3 separate regions of the Homo sapiens genome follow, and regions 1 and 3 are each linked to region 2. The links come from fine-mapping of genetic effects on gene expression. A gene starts in region 2. Each other region holds a variant in brackets. All regions are shown on one strand. Distances are from middle to middle. Region 1 overlaps SLC22A23 (solute carrier family 22 member 23). Region 2 holds the start of PSMG4 (proteasome assembly chaperone 4). Region 3 overlaps SLC22A23 (solute carrier family 22 member 23).

Region 1 (2,756 bases), 27 kb after region 2:
GTTCAACCCATCAAAGCCCTCGTAAATGGCACCGGAGACCGACCTCGCGCCAGGACAGGGTCTGGCACAGTGCACGGGCATGCTGTCAGGACCATACAGCTGGGGCTCAGCTCAGCTTCCCCAAGGCTGCATAGAGGGCAAGCACTCTCCAGGGACACGGGCGAGGGCTGGGGCAGGCCAGGCGGGTGCAGCAGCAGCTTCGAGGTGCAGGGCGGCACTGTGCTGTCCCCATGGGCTGCAGGGCAGCAAGCTTACATGAGTCAAAGGGGGACAGCGGCTTCCCCTGGCAGCACAGACAGCCGGGCCCCAGCACTCCCAGGCTTTCTCCCCCCACCCAGACAACTGTCCCTAAGACAAAGCATGTTGGCGCCGGGCCAGGGCCTGTGCTGAGCCTGGTGCCAGGGGAAGGGGCGGGGGCATGCGTGCCAAGCAGCACACAAACAGGGAAGCACCAGTCGCTCTTTCTAGAGGCAAGAGGGAGAATACAAATGTATCCGTATAGTGTCCAACCTACGGCCAACTTCAGCTGCAGTTCTTGGAGGGCAACGGGGAGAAAGAGAAAATGGAAACCACAGGTCCGTGAGTCTTCGAGAAAACACCCATTTAGATGTAATATGAGACGAGGAAGCACAGCCCACGCGCTTGGGACTCACCTGAGTCTGGGTGCTGGCTGTACTTTCCAATCACTGGACCCGCAGACATGATCGCACCCACACGGACAAGGGCCAAGCAAGCGAGAAGAGAGAAGAGAGCACATTAGGTGTGGAGTTAGCCTAGCGTGTTCCCATGCGACTTGGTTCAAGCAAACTCCCTTCCGTGTCTGGGATGGCGCTGGCCGCCGGGGCAGTGGAATTCATACTGCGCTAAACAAAGATCTTTTTGTTAGGAAGACAGGAGTGAGACCCTGCTGGCCTCAGAGCCTGAGGAGAAAATGGAACCTTCACAGTGAGACCCCAGCAGGTGCAAAGGGTGAGCTTCCTTGCATGTAAAGTCACCCACAGGTCACTGCCGCCTGCATTCAAGCTGCGTCAAGTGCTGTGGGGTGCCCCTGCCAGCCCCAGCTCTGCTCCTCACGGCTGCTTGGTGTTCGCCTGGGGCTCCTGTGCATTCCTGCTCAGGGCCAAAGGGGCACCACAACACCCGGGGGCTGAGGCACCCTGCCACTTCCGTCCCAACTGTGTGAGCAGGAGACTCCCTGGAAGGGCAGCTGGGGAACGGGGATGGAGGGAGACAGGCGCCACGTGTGCAATCCATTAGCTAAGCCTAACAGCAGTCTCCCAGCAAGGTATAGATTGCATAAGAACTGTCCAA[G/A]TTAGAAAGCTGCTCCTGAGTTTGAAGTGAGCCATCTCTAATCTAGGCTGCACGACAAGGCCGCTCTGATCTGGGTGCGGTGGACAGCCCTGGCGTCTAGTTCTGAGAGCCCGGGTTCATTTTCCTTGTAAAGGCAGGGGAGCTCTGTGGGGTCGATGTTCCCGCAGTGTCCTGAGCCTGTCCCAGGAGGACCGTGCCAGGGTGGGAGAAGAGGCTCATCGGTCCTGCCTGTTCACGTCGCGCCCTGGGCTGGCCACGGAGATGCTGTGGTGGTTTGTCCATACACGGGAATGGGTATTTGTTGGTGAGGAGCTATACAGAGCTTGCTGGAAGGGCCAGATGGACTCTCTAGCTTTGCCTTAGATTTTTTTTTTTTTTTTGAGATGGAGTCTTGCTCTGTCACCCAGGCTGGAGTGCAGTGCTGCGATCTCAGCTTACTGCAACCTCTGCCTCCCAAGTTCAAGTGATTCTTCTGCCTCAGCCTCCTGAGTAGCTGGGACTACAGGCGTGTACCACCAAGCCCAGCTAATTATTTTTTGTATATTTAGTAGAGATGGGGTTTCACTACATTGGTCAGGCTGGTTTGAACTCCTGACCTCATGATCCGACCGCCTCAGCCTCCCAAAGTGCTGGGATTACAGGCGTGAGCCACCGCACCCGGCCAGATTATTTTTAACCTTTACTGAGAAATTCTTTGGTCCAAAGAGAAGCTGATGAACTCGGGAACATCTGCTGAAAAGCAGGGCCCTAATGCAAGGGTGACAAAACAGATTTATTTCCCCCTTAATGTCACTCGAAAGAGACAATCCTTTGTTCTTCTTGGTCATGTGATGAATCACACAGAAGCAGTCTACCTATTAGCAAAGACTGGGCCACCAGGACTCGGAAGGAATCATGGTGCAGCCCGGGCCGGGGCAGGGGCAGGGGGAGGCGGGAAGGCCCAGTGCCCTCTAAGGCGGGCTCCACAGATGCTCTCAACTGAAGCTCTGTTCTCCCCAAAGCAGCTCCTTCCAGCAGTAGATTTTAGAGTGGCCAGCGGAGTCTTATGCAGCCCTTTCAAATGCCCTTGGGGATCTGCCAGCTTCCCTCCCTGCACCCAGCCCACCTCCCCGACCCACTCACGGTTGAGGAGGCCGAGCTGCAGGAGTGAGGCCAGGGCGGTGAGGATCATGAAGAGCAGCAGCCCTCCCCTGCGCCCGAGGAATCGGACCACCACGCACATGGCCAGGCAGGACACCAGCGCGATGCTGGCCGTGGTATAGTAGTCAGCATAGAAGTTCTCCAGGAGCGGCACCTTCACCTCGTGGCCCATCATGCTCCTGGCAAAGCAGTGGTGGATCCCGTACCCCGTCAGCCTGTGGAGACATACCGAGCGGCAGTGGGTGGGCTGCCCCCATGCCAGGGGCTGCGCTGCCTCCTGGGAGTTCGTGCTGTCAGGTGACCAG
Region 2 (2,756 bases):
TGTTTCCTTAATCTTTGGGTCCTCCTAGCTGATTGAAGGGCCTCAAATCACAAAGTAAAGGGATAAAACAATTATGGTGTAGCCATACAATGGAACACTGCTTAGTAATACAAAGACACAAGCCATTGACACACAAGCAGATGAACCCAAGATAATTATGATGAAGGAAAGAAGCTGGACAAAAAACAGTACATACTGTGTGATTCCACTGATACAAAACTCTGGAAAATGCAGACTAATCTGTGTGGCAGGAAGCAGATCAGTGGTTGGGGGCAGGAGTCATTACTGAGGGCAGGAGGGAGTACTGGACGCGTTCACTTTGTGGATTGTGATGATGATTTCACTGGCTATAACGTGTCAAGACTTCAATTTGTACACTATATATGTGCAGTTATTGTATGTTAATCACATTTTAATAAAGCTGTTAAAATATTGACCTGAAAATTAACTGTATTATTGAATCATCGATAATTAGCAAATAGAACTATGGAAAATGCCCTCTTAAATTTCAATTTAGTCAACTTAGATCTATTAGAGATTTTTAAAGCAGACCTTTTATAGTTCCAAGTTAAATCTCTAAAGTCAGTTGTAACAGAATCTGACAAAATGGGCTGTTTTCTTTTACCACCTTCTCTCTTAACCCATCAAGGCTTCCTTTTCTCAACTCTGTAATGTCCTGAAGTGTTCAAGGGGTCTCCCCATAGGTATGACAATGGGATGATTGGATGATTGTTGGTGCTTCCCATTAATCTCTCTTGAGATCCTTTCCACGTCTCCGAAAGGCACCTGTTCTTATTTGCATTTTGCAGATGAGGAAACTGAGTCTCAGAGAGGTTAAGGGGGTAGCCCGAGGCCATGTACATGACTGCAGCTTGGGACTCGGCGTCCAAAAGGGTGCCTGCCCATCCTCCTGCCAACTTAGTTGACACAATTTTCCTTTCTAAAGGCTTTCTCCCAATACCGTTGCCATTCTTAATTAGGGCTGGGTGCCGTCGAAGCCTCCTTGGAGTTAAAGGGCTGCTAGGAGGAGGAGGTGGGACGGGAGGTGGCCGTTCTCAGAGTGCTTGAAGAACTAATTAAAAATCAGTCTTTTTAAATTTTTAATTAAATTAATGTCTGTAGGGCGAAGTGTCACGGCCTGGGAGGACGGTGCGGCTGGCTTCAGCCCTTGAATGCCCCGCGTCAGTAATAATTAGGGGGTGGGGGGAAACAAAGCGAGGGTGAGTTCTGCTGGGCGCCCGTGGACTCCTAGAGGTCACTGTCGCACTCTGCTACTCAAGTGGGTTTCCCCAGCCCGTCCAGAGAGGTACTGGTGTGCGGGAGAGGCCAGCAAGACAACCAGGGACAGCTACTCCGCCCAGGGCCGGCAGCCGCCCCGCCTCGACCACGCCCCCAACCCAAGCCCGGGATCGCCCCTCCCCGACCACGCCCCTCACCCCCGCCCTTCCGGGGCCGAAAGCGAAAGCGCGCTCGGTCTCTCGGTGCTCGCTCCATCGGGTCTGGCGGGGCTGGCAGCGGCGAGGACCCGGGTCTGGCGCTGTGGGCCGGGAGCCGTGGGGCGGCATGGAGGGGCTGGTTGTCGCCGCCGGCGGGGACGTCTCCCTGCACAACTTCAGCGCGAGGCTGTGGGAGCAGCTGGTCCACTTCCACGTCATGCGGCTGACGGACTCGCTGTTCCTGTGGGTGGGGGCCACGCCGCACCTGCGCAACCTCGCCGTGGCCATGTGCAGCCGCTACGTGAGTGCCTGGCGGCCGAGGGTGCGGGCGGCGGGGCGGGGGCGCGGGGGCGCCGGGCCTGCGCGAGCTGCAGCCCCCCAGGCTTCTCTTGGGTCCACAGGGCGCCCTACTCCCCCGAAGCCCACCCGTGGGATGTCTTAGGAAGCCCGCGGGCGCCAGGGCCTGCACCACCTCGGGAGCTGCGCGCGGGCCCCGGGCCCCTCTCCTTGTCCCGCCGCCCCGCAGCTGCGTCCCGCACTGGTCTCTGTAGGTCAGAATGTCTTGGGTCTGTCCTCGCCACACGCTCGCTGGGGGACGCGTCTGCCTCGTAGCTCTCCTGCCATCTGGATTTTGAGCACACTGATAATTTTTTGGGGACTCTTGCGTCTCCACTGGATGTCTCAGGCATTTCGCACTAGGCACACATCAGGCTCTCTTCTCCAAACCTGCTCCCTCCTCCGCCTGACTGGCGCTGTGATGGCAGCTCCATCTTCCTGGCTGTGCGTTCAGAGCCTCGCAGTTGTCTTTGATTCCTCTTTCTTCACACTCCACGTGCTGAGTCCCTAGGCACTGCCGCCAGTCAAAGCAGACAAAACCCAAGCCGCCCTCACCTTCACCCTGCCGCGCTGGGCCAAGCCTGGGACATTATCATTTCCCCTCCTCTCCCGCCTTTCCGGCTTTGCGTGTCGCCGCCTGGTTTCTCCTGGTTTCCTGAGGCAGCTGTAAGAAAGTGCCACAGACCGCGTGGCTTAAAACAACAGAGGTTTATTCTCAAAGATCTGTAGACAAGGTCTCTCACTGTCACCCAGGCTGGGGTACAGTGTCATTATTATAGCTCACTGTCACCTCAAACTCCTGGGCTTAAGTGATCCTCCTTCCTCAGCCTCCCGAGTAGCTAGGACTACAGACATGTGCCACCATACCTGGCTAATTGTGTTTTTTTGTAGAGATGGGGGTCTCACTATTTTGCCCAGGCTGTTCTTGAACTCCTGGCCTCAAGTGATGATCCTCCTTCCTCAGTGAGCCCGACTCTTCTCATA
Region 3 (2,756 bases), 38 kb after region 2:
TAGCCCATAAATATTCATGGCACACCTGCTACGCGTCGCGTCAGGCCTTCGGCTGGGCTGCTGCTGGGGGCACAGAAGTGTCTGGCTCTACAGACGGGCCCTGCCTTGCCTGGCCTTGCCGCTCTGCAGGGGTGACAGGCAGTAATAAGGAACCCTGCAATTACTCGTCGTAGCTGGGATGAGGGGAAGCGGGGAGAAGTGCTGAAGTTGTAACAGTGAATAACTGGGGGCTGACTTGGTCTCTGAGGAGCTGGGCAAGGCAAGAGTGGGGAGCTGAGAGGACAGGGAGTGTGCACCGGGAGGGACCTGTGGAGAGGGAGACGGTGGTGTGTCCTGGGAGCCAAACGAAGGCCAGGGTGTGAGGTGGTGGGAGGCAGAGATCAGAGCCTCTGCAGTGGCCTGGAGGACCTGGGGTCTACCCGAAAGGCACTGGGAGGCACTGGAGAGGCTTGAAGCCGGTGGTGATGTGATCAGATCATGTGTGACCTGGTGGCAGGGAGGATGGAACAAAGCTGGGAGCCCAGCCAGCCGGCCAGGGCGCGAGAGGGTGACAGACACGAGGCTCGGAGCAGGTGTTGGCTGTGGGATTAGATGGGGTGATGGGAGGAAGATTCCATGCAGAAAACTGAGCCTGGGCAGAGGAAGCTGGAAGTGGGAGATGTAGCAACTGAAAGACACGCTGCCTTCCCCCACACTCAGCAGCCCTGCCAATCGTGCTGCCATCAACACATCTGACAGCTGGGGGTGGAAGAGAGCAGAGTCCACTGTGAAGGGCTGCGGGGCAGAGCCACCACCTGAGGACCGCTCCCCAAGGAGGTGAAGCCTCTATCCTCTTTGTTAAGTCACATGTCACCAACTGCCTCTCACCCAGCCTCCTGCCTGGGACTCTGGAAAGGAAATAAGCACCAGCAAAACTCATAAGCAAAGAAATAAATTTTTAAAAAGGATCTAATACCACTTTCCAAATATAGGAGGGAAATGAATCAGTGTAATTAGGATTTGAGAAAACAAGCTATTCCCAGACAATATTTTAACGTGAAAGAAGCAGAGTGTGATGACTTAATTAGGGAAATGCCACAAACAAATTGTACTGTAAGCCTAAGAGCATTAACCTGCTAACGAGTGAGGTCTGGGGAAATCTGGGAAAGCCATCTGGACCGTCCAAAACGAGCAAGCATGGCCCCGCTGGAGAAACCTGGATTGAGTACTCACTACTCAGCGCAGGGAAGTTTGTATCTATCCAGAGCTCTCCCTCATGTT[A/C]GAGCAGCGTGGCAAAGCCACCCCTGCTGGACTTTGCACCCCTGCTGGACAAGTCCTCGCTCAACTTCTTAGCAGCTGTGTGACCTCTGGAAGCTGCTTAGCCTCTCTGTGCTCCCGTTTCCTCATCGGCAAACGGGGCTAATTATAGTGCCTCTCTCATAGGCTGTCATGGAGAAATAATACACGTGAAGCACTTGGGGGCTAAATATTAAATATGAATTAATATTTGCAAATCACTTAGAAAAGGAGCTGAAATGTGAGTGCCATGTGAGTGTCATCGTGTTTCTCGTCACTGTCCCTGGATAAAAAGGGACCACAGATGCACCAGCACTCAGCACCCTTCATGTCAACCAGACCTGGCTCATGTCCTTCTTCTGTCCAGCGAAGCAAAAGCTTCAGGCGTCCCTGGGTAGGCCCCACCCCACCCAGCACGTGGTCCAGCCTGGGTGACCTGACTCTCACGGCCCTGCACAAGTTGAGGCAGAGGGTGACATCCTGGCTGAGCTACGGCAGCACCAAGGAGCTTCTAGTGACCTAGTGTCCCCGATCTTCTGAACTGGGAGTCTAACGAGAGGCCTGTCCAGGTACCAAGGGCTTCTCTGATTTGGGGTTCCCGTGCATCCCTTCCCATCGTAAATGGATACCTGCAGGGCACATTCTCCCACCTCACTCAGGCCCCTGCACCTGTGCCCCTGGAGCAAAGCTTCCGCAGCCACTCTGACTGTAGTCCCTCCCTGCCACCCTCTATCCCACAGCCCTGCTGTTTCATCCCTCCTGACGTATGCACGTGTAACTTCCCTGTCTGTGTGCCCCACCTGCCTGCAAGTTACGTGAGAGCAAGGCTTTGCCTGTGTCTTCTCTGCTCTAGAATAGCGCCTGAAACACAGCAGGCATCTAGTAAACACGTGTTGGTTTACTGAATGAATCATGATCACAAGCATTTCTGGTCAGGGGGGAAAATGAGCATATTCTCTCTTGGACGATGGCCTGGAGGTTATTTTCCCAGGGAATTTTATAGCAACAATTTATCCCAGGTCTTCAGTGAGGGCAGTGAGTCAGAGCTTGGGCCGAGACCACCAGTGATCTTCAAACGGAAATCTGTATACCACTTGCATCAGAATCTCTTCTAGTGCTTATTAGAAATGCAAGTTCTCAGGGCTTATCCCAAATCTAACAGGTCAGGATCTCCAGGTGCCAGGGAGAGGCCCAGGAATCTGGATTTTAACAACCTCCTGGTGATACGTGGATCCCCAGGTTGAGAACCCCCACCTAGCTGTGGTAACGCTCCTGACACGCAGGAATTCTATGGATCTGAACGACTATCCAAAAACACTTCACCTTTCCTGTCTTCAGCTGCCCAACAAATAGGTCATGGCCAGGTAAAGACAATGGTGGCTCTCTGAAGGTCATGCTCAGGAAAGCTGAGGTCACAGGGGCCATCTACACCCTGAGCCAGCGCTCTGGCAGTGTTTAGACCTGGCAGGCAGGTAGGCTAT

The links. PIP is the estimated chance that this variant, and not a neighbour inherited with it, causes the effect.
Region 1: its variant is fine-mapped to the expression of PSMG4 in tibial artery (GTEx, PIP above 0.99).
Region 3: its variant is fine-mapped to the expression of PSMG4 in whole blood (INTERVAL, PIP above 0.99).

What each region holds. Positions count from the first base shown.
Region 1 is chr6:3,284,426-3,287,181 of GRCh38, forward strand. SLC22A23 (solute carrier family 22 member 23) reads right to left here. Exons shown (of 10, transcript NM_015482.2): 7 at 2,434-2,666; 8 at 654-686. Among named protein-coding and RNA genes, the nearest start is that of PSMG4, 27 kb to the left of the region's middle. RefSeq lists an enhancer at 2,502-2,756. The variant G/A (reference allele first, on the strand shown) is at 1,312.
Region 2 is chr6:3,257,460-3,260,215 of GRCh38, forward strand. It overlaps PSMG4 (proteasome assembly chaperone 4), which reads left to right and starts at 1,488. Exons shown (of 3, transcript NM_001128591.2): 1 at 1,488-1,737. The coding sequence starts at 1,564. RefSeq lists silencers at 1,308-1,557, 1,678-1,797, 1,848-1,947 and an enhancer at 2,068-2,197.
Region 3 is chr6:3,295,040-3,297,795 of GRCh38, forward strand. The region is part of intron 5 of SLC22A23 (solute carrier family 22 member 23); the gene reads right to left. Among named protein-coding and RNA genes, the nearest start is that of PSMG4, 37 kb to the left of the region's middle. RefSeq lists an enhancer at 1,666-2,166. The variant A/C (reference allele first, on the strand shown) is at 1,261.